Homo sapiens: one gene and its partners. The protein of the gene in region 3 purifies or fractionates together with the protein of the main gene of each other region. This does not show direct contact. Each region holds a gene or a part of one and is shown on either strand. Other genes may lie near its edges.

The links.
Region 1: the proteins of ARHGEF26 (region 3) and CPT2 purify together in Homo sapiens (affinity purification with mass spectrometry; 2 studies listed by BioGRID and IntAct, with this or other methods). This does not show direct contact.
Region 2: the proteins of ARHGEF26 (region 3) and CPS1 purify together in Homo sapiens (affinity purification with mass spectrometry; 3 studies listed by BioGRID and IntAct, with this or other methods). This does not show direct contact.

What each region holds. Positions count from the first base shown.
Region 1 is NC_000001.11:53,199,824-53,206,823, forward strand, and holds part of CPT2 (carnitine O-palmitoyltransferase 2, mitochondrial isoform 1 precursor), read left to right. Parts: intron 1-895; coding exon 896-976; intron 977-2,499; coding exon 2,500-2,606; intron 2,607-7,000. UniProt on the Homo sapiens protein: Involved in the intramitochondrial synthesis of acylcarnitines from accumulated acyl-CoA metabolites.
Region 2 is NC_000002.12:210,587,599-210,594,598, reverse strand, and holds part of CPS1 (carbamoyl-phosphate synthase [ammonia], mitochondrial isoform b precursor), read right to left. Parts: intron 6,542-7,000; coding exon 6,452-6,541; intron 4,494-6,451; coding exon 4,365-4,493; intron 3,800-4,364; coding exon 3,693-3,799; intron 2,769-3,692; coding exon 2,630-2,768; intron 1,721-2,629; coding exon 1,643-1,720; intron 1,245-1,642; exon of another isoform or gene 925-1,244; intron 92-924; coding exon 1-91. UniProt on the Homo sapiens protein: Involved in the urea cycle of ureotelic animals where the enzyme plays an important role in removing excess ammonia from the cell.
Region 3 is NC_000003.12:154,117,147-154,124,389, forward strand, and holds the start of ARHGEF26 (rho guanine nucleotide exchange factor 26), read left to right. Parts: upstream 1-4,243; 5' UTR 4,244-4,373; intron 4,374-4,795; 5' UTR 4,796-4,846; coding exon 4,847-5,929; intron 5,930-7,243. UniProt on the Homo sapiens protein: Activates RhoG GTPase by promoting the exchange of GDP by GTP. Required for the formation of membrane ruffles during macropinocytosis. Required for the formation of cup-like structures during trans-endothelial migration of leukocytes.

The DNA.
Region 1 (7,000 bases), on a different chromosome or scaffold from region 3:
AGTATATCTTATATTAGGCTTTTAAACTGCTTTATGTATCATGTTTCAGTTTTCCTAAATGACTGATACATTTCAGTATTTTGCATATCAGTGTTAATTTTGAGTTGGTAGAGGCAGCCTAACAAACTCTGATTGTTTTGCTATTAGGGGATATTTCCTTCAATAAAACCAATGAATTGAAAGAGAAAATACACCTCACTTTACTGTCCATGTGTTTTCATTTCACAATAAGCCAGTAACTTCATCACCATAGCCATCTTTGGGAATCACTAGTAGACAGAATGATAAGTAGGCAAATTGCTGTTCCTGTTATTTAAGCACAGGGACTATTTGGTTCTTCCTAATGGCGTTCCTGGTATCTGGGCATGGCTCACTGGTCGATTCCTACCTTTTAGTGACTGTAGCCCCCATATATGGCTGGCCCTTGGACAGATCTGTGTTTCACTCTTATATAATTATTTGTTGTAAAATGCAGAAGAAAATTTAAAAAATAGAACCTTTTCATTTTATCCTAGGGGAGAAAAATGCAGTTGTTCAAACTAAGGGTAGAATTAAATCAGGGCCAATACAGTGTTAGCACAGGTGTTATCATTGTGACCAGAAAACAGGAATTCTTGGGGCAGCTTCTGCTTCCCCATTTTGAATCTATTATTGTTATTTAAAATAATTATATTTGTATTTTACTTAAAGATTTAGTTGTTATTTTACTTAAAAGTAGAGTTACCATTGATATACTTGGCATTAGTAAACCCATTGATTCTGATTTGTCAGTCGCTTCTGATTATTGGTTTTGGGGGAGGAAATTAATGATCTAGTAATCAGTTCATTAGCTTGTAAAGCTAATTAACCTCTTCCATATACTGTCAGCCTTACACTGACCCTGCTTTCTCCCCAGGCTGCCTATTCCCAAACTTGAAGACACCATTAGGAGATACCTCAGTGCACAGAAGCCTCTCTTGAATGATGGCCAGTTCAGGTAAACACTGAGAACCTTGGGTGAGCATAGTTGGGGTGGTTCAAGACAGGCTGGCAAGTAGTGGTGGACCAAGCTTCAGGGAATGTCTGTGACGTGGCTGGGTCTCCAGGAACCCAGAACCTAGTTGTACATCTGCAAGTTCAGGAAATAGATTTTCATTCATGAAGGACTGACCAAGCCCCGAGAGTTCCTCTAAACAGGCTCAACAGGAGATAGTTTATAAGCCAGAATGCCAAATGTGTACTTTCCCTTAGCAGGTGTACCTGGGAGGCTCGCTGGTCCTGGTCATTTATAGAGAGCATGTACCCTTGGAAGGGAGGTCCATTGAGGAGACCATACGGCAGACCAGAAGTCTGCATCGTGAGCATGTTTATTGAGTTGGATAGCATGCCTCCAAAATTTATGCCCTTTTTCATGAAATTTAGTATATGATCTTATTTGGAATTAGGGTTGTGGCAGATGTAATTAGTTAAGATGAGGTCCTACTGGAGTATTGTGGGTCCTTAATTAAATATGACTGGTGTCCTTGTAAGAAGACACAGAGACAGCGGTGTGAGGACACAGGCAGAGATTGTGTCCTCTGCCTGTGTCAACAAGCCAAGGCATGCCAGGGATTGCTGGCAACACCAGAATCTAAGAGAAAGCCATGCAACAGATTCTTCCCCAGTCTTCAGAGAAGATATAGTCCTACTGACACCTGGATTTTGTCCTTAAAGCTTCCAGAACTGTGAGAGAATAAATTTCTGTTGTTTTCAGCCACCCAGTTTGTGGTGTTTTGTTATAGCAGTCCTAGGAAGCAAATACAGCATGGAATTGGAAAATAATATCAAATATTGTCAAAAAGTGGATTGCATTAAGCTCTTATAGCCTAGTGTAGTACTCTTTTTCCATAATGGAAATTTTTCTGTACAGGTAACTGGCATTGTTGTTGGAATCACAGAACTCTTCACTGGACAGTGATGGAGAAGCAGATGAATTATCCATAATCTAGGCCTCTGTTTTCAAATATTTGTTATTAGTCATTTAAAGTTTCTCTTGATATGGTAATAGCTACCAGTTATTGAGTATTATGTTTTAGGATATTCTAAATCCTTAGCTTTATAAATATTTTTAATCTTGTAAAGTGGTATTATTATCCATTTTACACATCAAGAAACCGAGACTCAGATCAAGTAACTTATCCAAGATCACACAGTTTGAAAAGCAACAGAGCTAGGATTCAGACTTAACTTCTGTTGACTCCAGAGCTTGTGTCCTTTTCTCCATGCCAAACTGCCTCCTAGGATATGGATTATTTTGTGAGATGTTGATTGATTTTCCTAATCATTCATTTTAAGAAGGTAGTCTAGATTATCAATTTTAGATTGATTCCTGTTCTGGTTAGAGGTACTTTCTGATCTCATTCCAGGTTTTAGGGCTATGCTGTTGGGGACCCAAAACTCTATTATGAGTTCCTCGCCATGAACCTAAAAATCATGTATTCCCTACCATGGTTTGATTTTGTCTTTTCTTGAATGTTTTAGGAAAACAGAACAATTTTGCAAGAGTTTTGAAAATGGGATTGGAAAAGAACTGCATGAGCAGCTGGTTGCTCTGGACAAACAGAATAAACATACAAGCTACATTTCGGGTAGGTAGGCTGGGCTGTGGGTATGATTTCTCCCAGAGCCCTCCATAATGAAAAGTAAGGCATATTCTCTCCTGTTTTGGTCTCAGAGATATTTTTGGTGAGACCAGCAAATGAAGTAACGTCTCATCCTCCCTTCCTGAGGTAAATTAAGGCTGAGTGTGTTCCTCCTCTACTGAGGTGTTGACTTGAGCCCATGCTCAAGAATGATGGCCAGCCTTCTCTGTAGATGGGATTGAGGCAGAACCTAATCAATGGTCCTGTCTGAAAAGGATGCAGGATTAAGTCCTATGTCCTATATCATTCTGGGTCCTTCACTGTCAGACAGAACTGTCCTCTCCAGCCTCTTCTCTCACCACCCACCCTGACATACTTCCTGCTAAACTCCTCATTGCTCCCTGAACCCTTAGTCTTTCATTCTTTTGTGCCTTTATCCATGCTGTTCCCACTACCATTTTTTTGCCTGGCAAATTCTTCTTTTAAGATCCAAGGAGGATGGTTTTCTGTGAAACCTTCTCAGTCCTTTTTCCTTTCCATTCAGAGTTGGTTGCTTCCACCTCTGTTCCTACAGCACTTCTTTTAATTTAGTTTATATATTTACCAAGGTTATACATGCATATAGTTTAAAGAATCAGACAGTTCTATAAGGCTTGTTAGGAAAAACAGCAACTTCCTCATCATCTTATTTCCCACTTCTCACTTTCAGCTCCTAAATCTTTTGTTATATACCCCCGTATCTCTAAATTAGATACTTACCTTACTGCATCTTGATTTTTTTGCTTTAGTCATTAGCTATTGACATCTCACTGTAGAAGATTAGAATTCAGCAGTACTTTACATCCCACCACATATGTGGGATGTGTATACACATACTTCCTATCCCCTTATTTTCACAGCATAGGGATTTGTAATTTTGGGTAACTCAGTATCTAGTTTTATGCTATTATGATCATAGAAACACTATTGTCAGCTGACTCATGTAGCATATTGGGATTGTTTTTCCTTTCCAGTACAAACTTTTTGTTTTCTCTGAAGTTAATAATTGTTCCATCTTTTCTCTTGTTTAGTTTTCTATGTGCTTACTAATTTACCCCCAGACTCTTCCCAAGCTGTCTGAATCTCCTCTCAATACATGAAAGCAGATTGGACATTCTATCCCTTTTGGTCTTCTTGACGAAACTTCTTCCAGAACTTGCGACATGCTGTAGTCTGGATTTGTGAACCTCTTGGCCTACTGTGAAGCTGCTCTCCTGTGCTCTTTCACCATCAGCTGGGGCATCTGTCATCTCTCTCTCATGTTGGGACTCGTGTTTCTTGTCTTTCATATTTTCTTATTTCTTGGCTTTTTCTTTTTCTTTTTTTTTTTTTTTAAATCAGAGCACATATTCCCTGTACTATCTGGAAACAGAATATGGGAAGCAAAAATTTTAAAATGGCCCTTATACTTCATTGATAATTTGTTTGGCTGGGTTTGAAATTATTTTCCCACAGAATTTTGGAGGCTTTGCTCCATTGTCTTTTAGCATCCAGTGTTGCTGTTGGTAAATCTAATGTTATTCTGAGACTTAATCTTTTGACTACTTCTTCTCTCTGCCTTTGGAAGCTTTTTAGAATTTTCTCTTTGTCCCCAGTGTTTTGAAATTTCAGGTAATGTGTTTTAGTATGTGTTGGGCCACTCTGTGAGTCCTTTGAATCTGGAATCTCATCCTTCAGGTCTGGGATATTTCCTTGTTTTATTTCTTTGGCTTTCTTCCTCTCCATTTTTTTTCTCTGTTTTTTCTTTGTGGAACTCTATTATTATTCAGGTGTAGAATTTCTGGGTCTCATCCTCTAATTTTCTTTTCTCTCACATTTTTCATCTCTTACTCTTTTTGTTACATTTTCTTGGGAGACTTACTTAATTTTAATCTCTCAACCTGTTTTTAAAACTCCTGCTTTCCTATTTTTTACTTCCACAAGCTCTTTTTTCTTCTTATGGTGTTCTTTTTAAAAATAGTTTATCTCTGATAATTTTTTTTTAAGATCTCTTCTCTCTTCATAGTCTGTTGCCTCCAAGTTGCTTTTCTTCTGTTTGCTTTGCCCTTTTCTTTCTTCAGATGCTTCATAATCCTGTGTTGTCTTCGATATGAGTGAGATATTAAAAAGCTCTTGGAAGCTATGTGGATGGGGGTGAGGCTTGTCAGTTACAGGCTTTGCTCTAATGTGATTGATATGGTTTGGCTCTATGTCCCCACCCAAATCTCATCTTGAATTGTAATCCCCACGTGTTGAAGGAGGGACCTGGAGGGAGGTGATTGGATCATGGGGGCAGTTTTCCCCATGCTGTTCTCATGATAGTTAGTGGTTTCTCACGAGCTCTGATAGTTAAAAAGTGTTCAGCAGTTCCCCCACTTGTTCGCTTTCTCTCCTGCTGCCACATAAGATGTGCCTTGCTTCCCCTTCACCTTGCGCTGTGATTGTAAGTTTCCTGAGGCCTCCCCAGCCACAAGGAACTGTCAGTCAATTAGACCTCTTTTCTTTATAAATTACCCAGTCTCAGGTGGTTCTTTATAGCAGTGTGAAAATGGACTAATATAGAAAACTGGTACCAGGAGGGGGGCATTGCTACAAAGATACCTGAAAATGTGGAAACAACTTTGGAACTGGTTAATAGGCAGAGGTTGGAACAGTTTGGAGGGGTCAGAAGAAGACAGGAAGATGTCAGACAGTTTGGAACTTCTTAGAGAGTTGAATGGTTTTGACCAAAATGCTGATAGAGATATGGACAATGAAGTCCAGGCTGAGGTGGTCTCAGATGGAGATGAGGAACTTATTGGGAACTGGAGCAAAGGTCACTCTACTGTGCTTTAGCAGAGAGACTGGTGGCATTTTGTCCCTGTCCTAGAGATCTGCAGAACTTTGAACTTGAGAGGGGTGATTTAGGGTGTCTGACAGAAGAAACTTCTAAGCAACAAAGCATTCAAGATGGCTTTTTCTGAAAGCATATGGTCATATGCATTCACAGAGAGATGATGTGAAAGTGGGACTTATGTTTAAAAGGGAAGCAGAGCATAAAAGTTTGGACAATTTGCAGCCTGACCATGCAGTAGAAAAGAAAAACCCATTTTCTGGGGAGAAATTCAAGCCACAAGCTGCAGAAATTTGCATAAGTAATGAGAAGCCAAATGTTAATAGCCAAGACAATGGGGAGAATGTCTTGAGGGCATTTCAGAGATCTTTACAGTAGCCCCTCCCAGCATAGGCCCAGAGGCCTAAGAGGGAAAAATGGTTTCCTGGGCCCTGCTGTTCTGTGCAGCCTCGGGACATGGTGCCCTGTGTCCCAGGCACTCCAGCTCCAGCCATGGCTAAAAGGGGCCAAGGCACAGCTCTGGCCATTGCTTCAGAGGGTGCAAGCCCCAAGCATTGGAGGCTTCCCCATGGTGTTGGGCATGCAGGTGTGCAGAAAACAAGAGTTGAGGTTTGAAAACCTCGTCCGGCCGGGTGCGGTGGCTCACGCCTGTAATCCCAGCACTTTGGGAGGCCAAGGCGGGTGGATCACAAGGTCAGGAGATCGAGACCATCCTGGCTAACATGGTGAAACCCTGTCTGTATTAAAAATACAAAAAAAATTAGCCGGGTGTGGTGGCGTGCACCTGTGTCCCAGCTGCTGGGGAGGCTGAGGCAGGAGAATAGCGTGAACCCAGGAGGCAGAGCTTGCAGTGAGCCAAGATAGCACCACTGCACTCCAGTCTGGGTGACAGAGCAAGACTCCATTTCAAAAAAAAAAAAAAAAAAAAAGAGACAACCTCCTCCTACATTTCAGAGGCTATATGGAAACACCTGGATGTCCAGGCAGAAGTCTGCTGCAGGGGTGAAGCCCTCATGGAGATCCTCTACTAGGGCAATGCAGATGGGAAATATGGGGTTAGAGCCCCCACACAGAGTTCCCAATGGGGAGCCTAGTGGAACTGTGAGAAGAGGGCCACTGCCCTTCAGACCCCAGAATGGTAGATCCACCGACAGTTTGCACCATGTGCCTGGAAAAGCCACAGGCATTCAATGCCAGCCTGTAAAAGCAACCATGGGGCTGTACTCTGCAGAGCCACAGGGGCAGGGCTACCAAAGGCCTTGGGAGCCCACTTCTTACATCAGCATGCCCTGGATGTGAGACATGGAGTCAAAGATTATTTTGGAGCTTTAAGATTTAATGGCTGCCCTGCTGGATTTCAGGCTTGCGTGGGGCCTGTAGCCCCTCTGTTTTGGCCAATTTCTCCCTTTTGGAATGGGAGCATTTACCCAATGCTTGTAACACCAGTGTATCTTGAAAATAACTAATTGGTTTTTGATTTTACAGACTCATAGGCAGAAGGAACTTGCCTTTACTCAGATGAGACTTTGGCTTGTAATTTTGAGTTAAT
Region 2 (7,000 bases), on a different chromosome or scaffold from region 3:
GAGATGCAACTAGTGCTGGCTTCGGTAAGACTGATGTAATGGTGGTAGCTTTTCCTTTCTTTATCAGTGAGAAAAAGGAATCAAACAGGTACTAGAAAAAAATACAACCAACTAGTTAGAAGCTTCAAAATTCCTAAGTTCACCAGATAAAACACAATATACCCAGTTAAATTTGAACTTCAGATAAGCAACAAATAATTTTTATTATAGCATTTCAGCTTTTTTTGCTTTTTTGTCAATAACTAAATATCTGTTAGTGTGAGAATTTAATCAAATAAACACTTCTGTTCACTTCAAGTCTTATAAAAAAGAAGTTTCCAACAAGCAGTAAACATATCAGATACCTTCTGAGAATGCCAAGTTTTTAGTAAATTGTATATCATTTGTTTCTTCTAAATCAAATTCTAGGTGGATATAACAATTGAAGCTATATCACTTATGATATAGAAAATTAGAAATACTAATTTAAATTTAAATTTCTATCGGCTCTAAAAAACAGTTTCTGAAGATTATTCTTAATCTTTGCCAAAGGATTTACTTCTGTTGTTTCACTAGATATGACAAATTACAACAAAGAATATTCATTTTGCAATTATTGGAAAGACAAAAAAGGAGAATTATGTGACAGTGGATATTATTACATCTTAATTGCAATGTTCCTAATCCGAAGTACTAATATATGCTAATTTAAATTTTAAATTAAAAAACTACTTAGCATGTGTTAGATGATACACATAACTAAATTTGATTTATGAGTTTCATCATGGGTTGGTAATATAATACTGATTTTGGCTATTAAGAACCAATATTTCCTAATAATATTAAAACAAGAACAAAATATAAATATCTAAAACGGCAATTCAGACATGAGAGAGTAGAGCAGAGCTTGCAGAAAGAAAGCTCTTATTCTCTTCCCCATTTTACCTCGAAGTCTTTTCTGAGAGTTCTGACAATGAAGATTTGCTACTGGAGGCCCCTGGGTGTGGGGAAGTCACAATAGACTTCAGATTTTTCTGGATATCACCAGAAGAATTTATTTGGAAAGATGGGTTTGAACAATGAACTAAGAGCTCACACACAAAAAAGTAAAAATATTTAGATTAAATACAAAACTCCTCTAAGCATTCCTTGTGGTTCTTTTCTGAAGCCGTCTGAATCATCTATGTATGTGCATGCATGCCCTCTCTCCCCTCCAACACCCTTCCCCTCCTTCTCCTGCTGCTGTTTATTCTCCCTTAGTGGCTACACAACCAGTTGCCATAGGGATTTTTGTGAAGTCACAGATGGGGGATTAAAATTTCATTTCAGTCATGAGAACGAGAGAGAGCAAAAGGGAATTCATTTGCATAGTACAACAATTGTAAATTTCAGAACTAAATATATTAGAATGATAATGGGTTTAAATAAAAATACCATCGCTTCGGGTTTCTTAAGGGCTTTCCCACTTTAAATTTTAAAAAAGATAAAAATTTCCTCTGTGACATTCATGGGGAGATTTTAATACAAAATGTGTGTTACCAAAGCACTCTTCTTGAGAATGTTCTGCTCAAGATCATCTGGGGTGATTATTTTGGTTTCTCGAATTTCCACACAAATACATTTTTTTTTTGCATACATAATAGGCCTCATCTTTTTGACGTACCTCAGTGTCTATTGGCCCCGGGGTGACCTCTGGGTGGAACTGCACAGCGAAGAAGGGTTTGCTCTCATGCATAATCCCCTAAAGGAATAAGAAACAGGAAGAAATTCCTTCTGTAACAATGAATGTCAAGTGTGGCTATGTATTATTCAGGGAACAATAAAGCTCAAATTTAAAAACTGAGTTAGATGCTTAACAAAATTTTTGTAACTAACAGTACTATTAAGTAACATGGTCCGATATCTTAAGGACTTACATATCTGACCTTTTTGATTAAGTATGGAAAATGGGTCAATGAAGACTCAACTGAATGTGTTTTCCTTTAAAATAAATAAATAAATAAAAAATTTGGTCTATAGTCTTTGGGACCCCTCTGGGTTCTGTTCAGAGTAAACTCAAGTCCTCATCTTATCCCCAAGTCCGAAATTACTTTTCCAAGGGTCTTCTCAAACACTACACCAGTGCCAAGTAAGTCCCAGAGACCCACCCAGATGGGGCTCAAACAGATTTGGACCAACAGCCCACTAACATTGAATATATGAGATAGTTGTTGATTAATAACTCAAATAGTGAATCTTAACAAGTCAACTGATGAGAGAATAAGAGAGAGAAATGACGTTTTAAAACACAGAGGGCTATGGGAGAAAACCTATAGCTGTTTTTCAACACTCAACCCCAAAAAAATCACAAACAAACAGGAGAAAGGTATTTGCATCATAGTGTATTTAAAAACTCTGGGTGAATATTCTGAGTGAATAATTTATTGCATATTTCAAAACAGCTAGAAGAGAAGATTTGAAATGTTCTCAATACAAAGAAATAAAAAATGAGGTGATGGTTATCCTAGTGTGATTTGATCATTACATATGATATGCATGTATCAAAATATCACATGTATCTCATAAATATATACAATGCTTATGTATCAATTATTTTTAAAAGCCCTGCGTTTCTCATCACCAACTGAACAGGTTTATTGACATCATTTACCTCATTTGTTTGATCGTTGACATTCACAAAAAGTGGTTTCCAGCCAGCAGGGAGGGTGTTGTCCAAGGCATAGCCATGATTCTGAGCAGTAATGAAAGCCTGTTTGTTTGTGATATTCAAAACAGGCTGATTCTGCCCTCTGGAGAGAAAAGGAGAAAAAGAATAGGGAAAAGGAAAAGTGAAGAGAATAATATAAATGTATTCCTTATAAAGTAGTGAACAAGTAAAGCCTATTAAAATTCAAAATTTCAATTGCTTAGTGAAAATCACTCTGTGAGAAAAGTCACAGATTGTTAATCCCAGTAATTTTCCCAACAAAAATCAATTCAGGAAGCTTTGTTGTGTGTTAAATACGCAGGTCTATTAAATTCTATAATCGGTTTTAGAAAGGGGGGCATTGCACTCATAACAAAAAGGGTTGCTCACCGGCTTAACAGAAACTAAGAAATATAAGTGACTTACTTTAAGAGAACTACAATAATTTTAAAGCCCGAGAGTTATAGGGAGATAACAAAGAGATGACTGCTCAGACCTGAATTATAATTTATGTAGAGGGTGGGCCATGGGAAAAAGCCTGATGTTTAATAAATTAATATTGTTTGAGGCAAAAAAGAGAAACCAAGAGGATCTAAAGGTTCCTCGGCTCTTAAGTCACACTTACCTTCTTAAAATGTTACAATGTTCTGAAATCAAGCTTAAAATCAGAACAATTTCCCTTGGAATATCATTTGATTGAGTATTATAACCTCAATTTATGCCAAGGGAAGGAAAATAACTTTAAATTATAGCAAGGTTATCATTAGAGAAGGCTGCTTTCCAAAAATGCAACAAAAGTGGTATCAGGTAGTCAAACAACTGTCAACCACGTAAGGTATGGTTATTTATTTTATTTTTTATTTTATTTATTTATTTATTTATTTATTTATTTTTATTATACTTTAAGTTTTAGGGTACATGTGCATTTATTTACTCTAAAGAAATGGCAGGTAAGTGCTCTGAGTTCTTTGTATTTAGTTAGTATGTCAGAGCTGGTTTACTGTAAGCAAAAGTGAAAATACCTCACCTGTTGGCCATGGACATCTTGTAGGTTTTGGCACCAGCAGCCAATCCTGTTATTAAGTTTCCTGTACTGATTCCAAACAATGGCTCCTTGCGATCACTCTCCAAAATCTAAATCAGGGAGAATTTTTATTAACCAATTAGTACAGTTCCAAAAAATGTTGCTTCTGAATGAACAAAAATGAGGTATCCTTTTTTCTTAAGAAGGTAAAGAGAATAGTAACTGAATTAAAGAAGAATATAAAAAAGGACATAATTGACAAATTTGTAGCATTATAATTCATTAAGATGTACTTTACATTCAAACTAAACTAAATCTAATTTAATATTTCTTTAGAGACCTGCAGGTCTTATGGGTCCCAAGGTCATGATAAGGAACCATGAGTTGTCGGTTTAAAACTGTAAAGCAAAATACATTTGGCCATTGGACTCCAGTTCTTTTAACTCAAGGACATGATCCCCAAGTTACTTTGCCTGAAGAAAAACCCTATTTTCTCTGATATTCTCTCCTCATTGGTTCCCCTACAGAATATCTCTACTGACACTGCCTCAGAAGTCACAAATACCAGCATTGAAAAATGCCTGAATAAATAAAATGTATCACAGCCCTTTGAGGGTATAGAGCGGAAGCCCCCACCTCCCACACAGATACACATGAATTCAAGGTTCATTGCACCTTTCTGACATTCTGAATTAGTGGTTCTGCAAGAGCTGGGTTCCCCGGTCCTCCCGCGATCAAAATCCCATCATACTCCATCTTGGTGAAATCATGGTTCCAGGGAACTAAGTGCACTTCAGCTCCTCGCTGGAAAAGAGACACAAGAATGATGAATTTAATAACATGTTTCTTTGCCAAAGTATAATTTTGCTAGACTTTCTCTTGACTAACCATTCCTTAAAGGGAAGGAAAAATTTGTAAACATTTAAAATAAATAATGCTGAGCAAAAATTTCTTTGGGGCCGGGCTTGGTGGCTCATGCCGGTGATCCTAGCACATAGGGAAGCTCAAGATAGGGGGGAATTGCTTGAGCCCAGGAAGTCAAGACTAGCCTGGGAAACAGGGCAAAACCCTATCTCTACCAAAAAAGATAAAACAAAAATTAGCCAGGTATGGTCCCAGCTACCCAGAAAACTGAGGTGGGAGGATCACCCGAGTCCAGGAGTCACAGGTTCCAGCGAGCCAAGATCACACCATTGCACTCTAGGCTGGACAACAAAGTAAGACCCTGTCTCAAAATAAAAATAAAAATAAAAATAAACACCATTAAAAGTTTTGATCCTGAAAAAATGGATAATGCACTCTCCTGCACTCAAGAGAAGTTTCAGTGCCTACAAATGCCATGACTGGACTGACAGGAGAGTAGGTTACCTTCACACGACCAGTTGCAAAAAGATATAAATCCATTTTCTGAAAATGTTAAGTTGGCCCACGTCAGACCTTTTTCAGTCTTGCCTTTTAGTCTTATCAAATTTTAATCAGCCTTCTTTCCTAGGGTTTTCTCATTTTCTGTAAGATTTATATTCGAATGGAAAACTTAGAAATTTCTTTTAATATAAAAGCACATAGGAAGGTGTCTTTGAGGGTTTCCCATGAAGCATTTCCTGAAACAAGGATTTAAGAGAACAAAAGCTTATTTGGAAGGTACTTCCATACTAAACAGAGAGGAAGTGACATCATGAAACACCCCAATAAATTATGCATTAGCAAGTAGTTACCACTAGGGATAAGTGAAGTTTAAGCCCAGTAGGGAACTCTGAGAGCCCGTGTGGAATAGTTACCTTAGAGACTGCCTATCCATGGGACAAAGGAGCCAGGGTGGTTAAACACTGGCTTTTTCTGTGCTTTGGTTGGGGGCTACTCCAGAGATCATTAATTCTATGCCATTTACTGCCTGCCAGTAGGCTCCAGCCATCAGGCAAAGAGATATAGATATTTGCAATTGGAAGATGGGCAACATGAATTAAAATGGTAACTTGAGATTGAGATATACACAGGCCATCCACAGCATCTGCTACCATGCATGCTATCCATGCAAATGTTTGTTAATAAAATTGACAAGAATTTGAAATCATGATTTGAATATTGCTGGTATTCTCTAATAAGGAGGTACGATGAAGAGTCTCCCAATACGCATGCTAATTTGGTGTTATGCAAATATGTGTGTATGTGTGTGTATGTGTATGGAGGGGAGATGTGTAGACAGAGACAGACTGAGAGAGGAGTGAGGAGAAGGAAAAATCCTAACAAAACTTTATTTAAGAAACATTATTATGATGGTTAAGTTCTCCTTGAGAATTTTTAAGGTTTAATTTTAACTGGTTGTCTAAGAGTTGATATAAAAACAATGTGAAAGTTCGTACTCTGTCAGGGCATGATTCCTACAAACGTGTGGTACAAAATAAATGTAAGCCCAAAGGAGATGCTATCAGACAGACTCTAGCTTTTTGGTCATCTCTATACCACAAAGAAAGTGAACATGATGCATCTCAGACTGTCAGTCAATTAATGACAAGAACAGTCATCATTTTCTTCCATGTTTTAGTGGCCCTTGAGGTTTTTTTTTTAAAGAAAAAACATAGCAGTCTATATTTTTAATTTGAACAGGGATAAATGTGTTATTTTGTAAATCAAAAGCAACAAGAAGAATGTAGACCCCTGACATTCTGAAAGAATGCATAAGTTTCTCTGTGACAGAGGAAATTAGCTGAACACTAATGGTCAATATGACAAACCCTCACCTTTGAAATGAACAAATTACTTACCTTTACTAGCAGGCGGATTACATTGTTTTTAATCCCACAGTCTACAGCTACCACTTTTGTGGGGTTTCCTTTGCCGTACACTTTGACATCCTGCCATTTTAAAAACCAGAGAATGAGAGGGAAGTCCCAGCTATGGGCAACAGACCAAAATCATAAACACATCTGACAATGTTTTGAACTTAGATTGGTAACAGATTGATTGTTAACTACTAGGGAGTGACTGGCAGTTAACAAACAGTTTGTAAGAAAGGCACAACAAGTGCCACAGACTGTATCTTTTTTATGAGAAAAAAAGACTTTGCTGTTTTATATAAACGGTTGATTATAGTAATAACAATGATCTCTAAGAAACTGGTTGCATGCATAGTTAACCATCTTTCTCATGTTTTGCCTCATTAACAACTGGTAGCAATGAAATGTTTAAGCATTATTGCCTGATTCAGCACTAGACAGATGTGGCAATAGATACATCATGCTTTAAATACCACTTGATCCTCAACTTGCAGTAAAGATCAAATGGGGTAAAGCTGAATTACTGTACATAAGGCT
Region 3 (7,243 bases):
AGAAAGTGAAGAGGAGGCAAGAACCTTCTTCACATGGTGGCAAGAGAGAGAAGTGCAAGCAGGGGAAATGCTAGACGCTTATAAAACCATCAGATCTCATGAGAACTCACTCACTATCATGAGAACAGCATGGAGGAAACTGCCCCCATGACCCAATCACCTCCCTCCATGAACACATGGGGATTACAATTTGAGATGAGATTTGGATGGGGACACAGAGCCAAACTGCCAAATCATATCAGAGTAGTTAGTTGTCATTCAGGTAAAATCTCAATCCCTCAGTCTCTGTTGCATACCACATTCTATTCTCACCATATTCAGCCAAATTAACATCCCACAACTTCTAAAAGCAAACTGTGTTTTGGTGAGCTTAGTTTCTTGTATGTTTTGATGCATGGGCTCTGGAGTATTGTAAAGAAAAAGTTTAGGATTCTGACTCAACCAATTATCAACAGTATGAGAAGAGCTTTTTGGGCTTCAGCTTCATATTTAAGTGGGCTCAGAACTAATGTGAGATTAAGTTATGTGTAACAAACAACAAAGCTTAAAATACAGTTGGCACTTAATGAATATCAGTTCTCCAGCCATCCCTCCATGTTTTTGCTTATCCTGGGAAATCTTTCTGTGACATCATTGTCCGCTTCTCCACCTTGCAATACTTTATCTACCCTTCTGGGCCAGTTTTATCCAGACTCCTTCACAAAGGTTTCCATAGAACAGAGAGCTTACTATGCATCTTACACAGTTTGGGTGTCTTTTATTTTAATGTTTCAGTCATGTTTCATGAGCCAAACTGTAAGGTTCAGGAATGTTTGTCTTAATGCTTGGCACTTGAATGCACCCAATAAATAGTTGTTGAATGTATAAATAAACAAAAGGTACACGGGATGGGAAATACTGGAAAATTGGACATATATTGTAATAAGACTAGCTAACAATTTGCATTTAAAAATTAGCCAAATTATTGTGCTTGGGACACAAAATTTGTGACCAATGTGAATTTGTTTAGTAAATGTAGCCATATATATCTTGCGTTGTACCATTGAATATTCTAATAGTTCAATATACCATTGGAATATACCAGCGGAAAATATCATTACAAATAGTTTGACATACTGTATTTCTTCAATTTTAAGAATAATTTGGTACCACATTTTAATTTCTTTGAAACTGGGATGTGTCTTACTATCAAATAAACATCCAGTGGCCAGGTGATAGTGATGATATAGTTGGCATTGCCTATTTTTGAACATGGGCATAAATGAATTGTTATCATTTCTACTAAATTCTATGAAATTTAGTCCTGTTGTGTCAAAGCCATATGCCAAGAAACATAGTTGAAGGCAGGAGAAATTACCAGATATGACAGATTAGGTGAAAGAAATTCTAAAGCAAAGAGAGGTTGATATAACCAATTCATGTATCATGCAGGACTATGGTTAAGGCATGAAACTACCATTTGTGAGAAACTTTCTCCTGGCCATTAATAGAGAAGCTGCATAGCTTGTAGTGACATACAATTCAGTTGAACAAGAAAACTATGTGTTTAGTCAAATGGGATAGTGCCAGCATCACAACTGCAGAATGAGTGTCATTGTCTAGGAGGCAAATCCCAGAAACAAGATTGGAACATCCTTTTAAGAAATGGTGCACTATCAACAATATTGTGTGGAAAAACACACATGAATGCTTTTCATGAAAAGGTATTCAGAAGAATCAGGCTCAATGTTCGGGACTTTGGTAAATTCATTTTGCTTATATTTTCCTTTCCTACATACACACAGTACTAAGCAAATCTATGTATAAGTGTCTAAAAGCACTAAGTATAAAGTAAAAATTCGATATGACATAACATATTGTCATAGTTTTATTAGCAGCTCTTTTCCTTTCTTTTGAGTGGAACATATAATTGAAGATAGGTTAGATTTGAATAGATAACAATAAATTGAATAGGCACTAGGTCTGTGAGTTTGTAAACTTCCCTCAGTGAAGGACCAGAGCTTGGTGTTTTGTTGTTGTTTTGGTAGGTATTTTGTTGTCTGTTGGAAATGAGGTAAGAAGATCCTATGAAGTCGTCACAAATATTGGTTATACTTGTTTGTAGAAGCAACATAATTTCAAGAAAAGCCACCTTCTCACATCACCTTTTACAGCTTCTTAACATAGGTCACAGGTTGCATTTTGAATTAGGTGAATACTCCATTTGTCAGTCGGTAACCACTTCTGAAATTAATTTATTATATTTCCCCAATATAACAGCAATACATGTTGGTATAGAAAACACCTTATATTAAAAAAAAAGTCTATGTACCTACATGTGAGTATGTAATCAGCCATGTCTTCCACCCAATGTGGAAAATTTCTTTCTTAAAAATTTTCTTAGGCCAGGAGCGGTGGCTCACACCTGCAATTCCCAGCACTTTGGGAGGCCAAGGTGGGTGGATCACCTGAAATTGGGAGTTCGAGACCACCCTGACCAACATGGAGAAACCCTGTCTCTACTAAAAATACAAAATTAGCCGCGCGTGGTGGTACATGCCTGTAATCCCAGCTACTCGGGAGGCTGAGGCAGGAGAATTGCTTGAACCCTGAAGGCGGAGGTTGCGGTGAGCCGAGATCGCATCATTGGACTCCAGCCTGGGCAACAAGAGCAAAACTCCGTCTAAAAAAAAAAAAGTTTCTTATACATTTTTCGATGCCGTTTCTTTTTTTCTTTGTTTATGAAAATGTCTCAGATCAAAGTAATATATCTTCATTGTCCAGGATATTTCGTTAAGTATAGAAAAATATAAAGCAGCATGAAACATACTATCCTTCATCTCACCACCCAGAGATCACATCTTAATATTTTTGGCCATTGCATTCAATCTAGGGCAAAAACAGGCAGCATAACTTGCACACAGTGGATGCTCACTGCATCCCTGCTGAATGCATGAATGCAGAAAGAGAACTTGGAGAAGGGCCCATTTGTCTTGCTAATAGAATCAATTATACAGCTCTTATGGTCTAAAATTATTTGTCTTCTCAAGTTTGCCTCATTATTGTCACACAGCAGGAGCCTGGCCAAGACACAGCCATCTTTCTACTATTTGACAACCAAGCACTTTGGAAGGAATGGTCACTGTTTTCACTTCATTCCTGTCATTCATTCTCTCACTCATTAAATAAATATTAAGTGCCCACCATGTGCCGGAAATACGGAGAAGAAAAAAAAACATGACCCCTGCCCTCATGCAAATTACTGTGTAAAGACAAAAGACAATAAACATAAACACATAAATATATATATATACAAAATTTTATAAGTGCAAAAATAGAAGAGAACAAGTGGCTGGGAAAATAAACGGGGCAATGGTATAATTAAGGAGGGGACAGGGAAGGCCTTTCTGACGCAGTGACAAGTCGGGTCAAGAAGGAACGAAAGGGAAGGTTATGAGGCTGTCAAACTTTGAGTGTGGCCAAAAAAATAATGAAGAAAGTGATGGAGGAAAGACTAGGCTGAAGAAGTAGGGCAGTAGTGAAGTGTCTTGTAAGCCATGCTAAGGATTTTGAGTTTTATTCTATGTACTGTTGGAAACCAATACTTTTTTTGTAGTGTAAATTGAGCTTATTTTTCACAGATAGGTTTCAAGATGCAAAGCATACAAGGACCAAAAATAATTATATGAAAACTCTCCCTCCCTCCGGTTTCCTAGCCACCCAGTTTCCCTCTTCAGAGCTGCCAGTCTTTCCTACGGAAAGACTCTAGGCACAAACAAGCCCATCTATCTGTTTATATTATAATGCATTTTCAGCACTGGGACGAGCCCATCTGATTTAAGACCACCTGAATGCTGAGAGGGCATGACTCTGCGTTAGAACTCTGCGCTACTGCCCACGCATCTCACAAAGTCTACTACGCCGCGCGTTCTCGGTTTCAACGCACCTCCAGGATTCAGGGCTTCCTAAGCTGCAATTCAGCAGGGCTCCCTTGCTTGTTCTCACTCTGTGCCCCCGGCAACGACCCCGCGCGCCTACACTCCCGTGCCGCCTCAGCTACTAGTCCGCAACTTCTAGCCCCAAAACGCTGGAGCTCAGAACCCAGCTCAGGTGCGCTCGTCGGTTTCCCAGGGAGACTGGGGCTGATTGTAGGCACGCGGGGGCGGGAAGACAGCTTCTTGCTTCTGGCTGCGATGGAGGCGGATCTGGGCGGGGCCGAAACGGGGGCGGGGCCAAGTGTGGGGGCGTAGTCAGGCGTGGGGGCGGGCCGGCGCCGGCGCCGCGGTCGGCGGCAGCGCTCTCCTAAGCTCTCGCGGCTGCGCTTCGGTCCCGGACCCGGGCCACCCACGGGGTAGTGGGTGCTCCTCGGCCCCGGACATTGCAAGCCCCAGAAGGTAAATTTGCGTGGGAGCCGCGCACCTGGAGCGCGAGGGTACCCATGATGAGGGCGGGAGGCTGGATGGCGACAGAAGGGAGCGTCCCGCGGCGAGTTTCCCAAGAAAGCTGAACTCGTCCCAAGTTTCTTGTGCCTCGGCTTGCACTCAGTGAATGGGTGGCGGGCTCATTTGCTGCGGGTGGTCTTTTGGCGCGGGAGGGACGCGGAGGTGATTGGATTAATCCGCCTGGGCGGCAGCCCAGATTTCTGCCGGGAACCGCGCACCGCAGTGGTGCAGTTTTTGCCCGAGAAAGGGCGGGTAAGTGCGGTGCAGTCGTGTCCTGCGCAGCAGCAGGGGGACCGCCGGTCTGGGAGCACGCGAGTCGGCCAGGCGTCCCCGGTTGTCCAGAGGCACAGTTTCCTAACTTCTTTCCTCTTTAGGCAAGACTAACTCGGTGTTGCTCCTCCCGGCGCTGACTTCGAGGCCCGGCTATGGACGGCGAGAGCGAGGTGGATTTTTCTAGCAACAGCATAACCCCTTTGTGGCGGAGGCGGTCGATTCCTCAGCCCCACCAGGTTCTGGGCCGGAGCAAGCCGAGGCCCCAGTCCTACCAGAGCCCCAACGGGTTACTAATTACGGATTTCCCGGTGGAGGACGGAGGGACGCTCCTCGCAGCGCAGATTCCCGCCCAGGTGCCCACCGCCTCGGACAGCAGGACGGTACATAGGAGCCCCCTGCTTCTGGGCGCCCAGCGGAGAGCGGTGGCCAATGGTGGGACGGCATCCCCGGAGTACAGGGCTGCCTCTCCTCGACTTCGACGGCCCAAGTCACCCAAGCTCCCCAAAGCGGTGCCTGGCGGCTCCCCGAAATCCCCAGCAAATGGCGCGGTGACCTTGCCTGCGCCGCCGCCGCCGCCGGTTCTGCGCCCCCCGCGGACTCCTAACGCGCCCGCCCCCTGCACCCCCGAGGAGGACCTTACTGGGTTGACTGCCAGCCCGGTGCCTTCGCCCACTGCAAATGGCCTTGCCGCTAATAACGACTCTCCTGGGTCAGGTTCGCAGTCCGGCCGGAAGGCAAAGGACCCCGAACGGGGGCTCTTTCCTGGGCCCCAGAAAAGTTCTTCGGAACAAAAACTCCCCCTCCAAAGGCTGCCCTCCCAGGAGAACGAGCTCCTCGAGAATCCTTCCGTGGTTTTGAGTACAAACAGCCCCGCCGCCCTCAAAGTGGGGAAGCAGCAGATCATTCCGAAGAGTCTGGCCTCGGAAATTAAAATAAGTAAATCCAACAATCAAAATGTGGAGCCCCACAAGAGACTCCTCAAGGTGCGCAGCATGGTGGAGGGCCTAGGAGGACCCCTGGGTCACGCAGGGGAGGAGAGTGAGGTCGATAACGACGTGGATAGCCCAGGGTCTCTGCGGAGAGGCTTGCGGTCCACGTCTTATCGCAGGGCAGTGGTCAGTGGCTTTGATTTTGACAGTCCTACCAGCTCGAAGAAGAAGAACAGAATGTCCCAGCCTGTTCTGAAAGTGGTGATGGAAGACAAGGAGAAGTTTTCCAGTCTGGGAAGGATAAAGGTAAAAGTGGGCAGGAGTGTGGCACGCCATTCACTAAGCGGAAAGTAAATGTGTTGGGAGTGGGGAGGAGGAGCGTAGAGGAAACCCGAAGAAGTCATTCCGTTTTAATTCTGTGTTTTGCTCTTGATTGCTAGTGTACATCCAGCTCTTGGCCACTTTGATGCTGGCAGGCACAGCCGAGTTTAGTGCAACTTTGTGGGAAGAAGTGAAATTCATCACTTTTAAATTTCTAAGCTCAGGCAGAATTGGGGGGGACAAGAGTGAAATATGGCAGATTATTGGCTGAGTGAGTCTTTACCACTTTTAAAAGAGATAGCTGAAAGGGGGAGGAGCATGTTCAGAACCGCACTCTGCAGTCAAGTTGTCTGGAGTTTGCTTAGAGGTTTCAGTCAATGATAGCTGTTATCACAGCTGATTCAGAAAAATACTGATTCCTGTTTGAGCCTGTTGATTATTTTTTGCTTTTACTTACTGAATTTTGAGTGGTTACTACGCACTTGATGTCATTCAGGTAGAATGTGAATTTGAAAATCAGTTGCCAGGATCACAAAAGACATAAATATTTTGTCATCTTTTTTGTTGCTTGTTTTTGTCACCGTGGCCTTTGGTTGTGTTTTATTCCCGTTGTATGCCCATTCATCCTTGAGTGCATGTAACAGATTGGCAGCTGAAAACTTAAGGTTAGGGTGGACACTGTGTGGTATTGCTCCCCTATATTGTCCCATTAGCTGCACTTATTAAAATATTGTCAAATATGACATAAAGAAACAGGGAAAACTGAAGAGGGGTATTTTGGAGTGTGTGCTTCCTTCCACAGAAACAACACAGGTTTCAGCAATAAGGCAGATTCTTTTTGGCAGCCACATTTTTTCTTGGTTAATCAGAGCACTGGAACCAGTCTATATAAATGGCACATATGCAAAACACAAGCAAGCCTGTTTTATTTTAGAGCCCGTGGTCTTAAAGAAAATAAATTACATAACATTTTATGTGTTTTTTCCAACTCTGCAAGTATAGCAAAGTTCAATTTAACAGTGATGGTGAATCACGAGTTGTAAAATGAGCTGACCTGCTAGTTATTTGAGGATTCTCAATCTGTTTTGACAGGGTGTGGGGGATCTTGTACATTTTATTTCATTGTTTCAGTGAATTGTAGTGATCAAATGAGTGAACTCCTCCAGGGCTCAGCTTCTGTGCGCTCTTGGAAATCTAATTAATGTAATGACTAAAAAAAAGTATTTTTACTTAAAATAGCTGTATTTTCTATTTGGCTCATTCATACATAGTTTGCTTTTCCTTTTTTTTTTTTTTTTT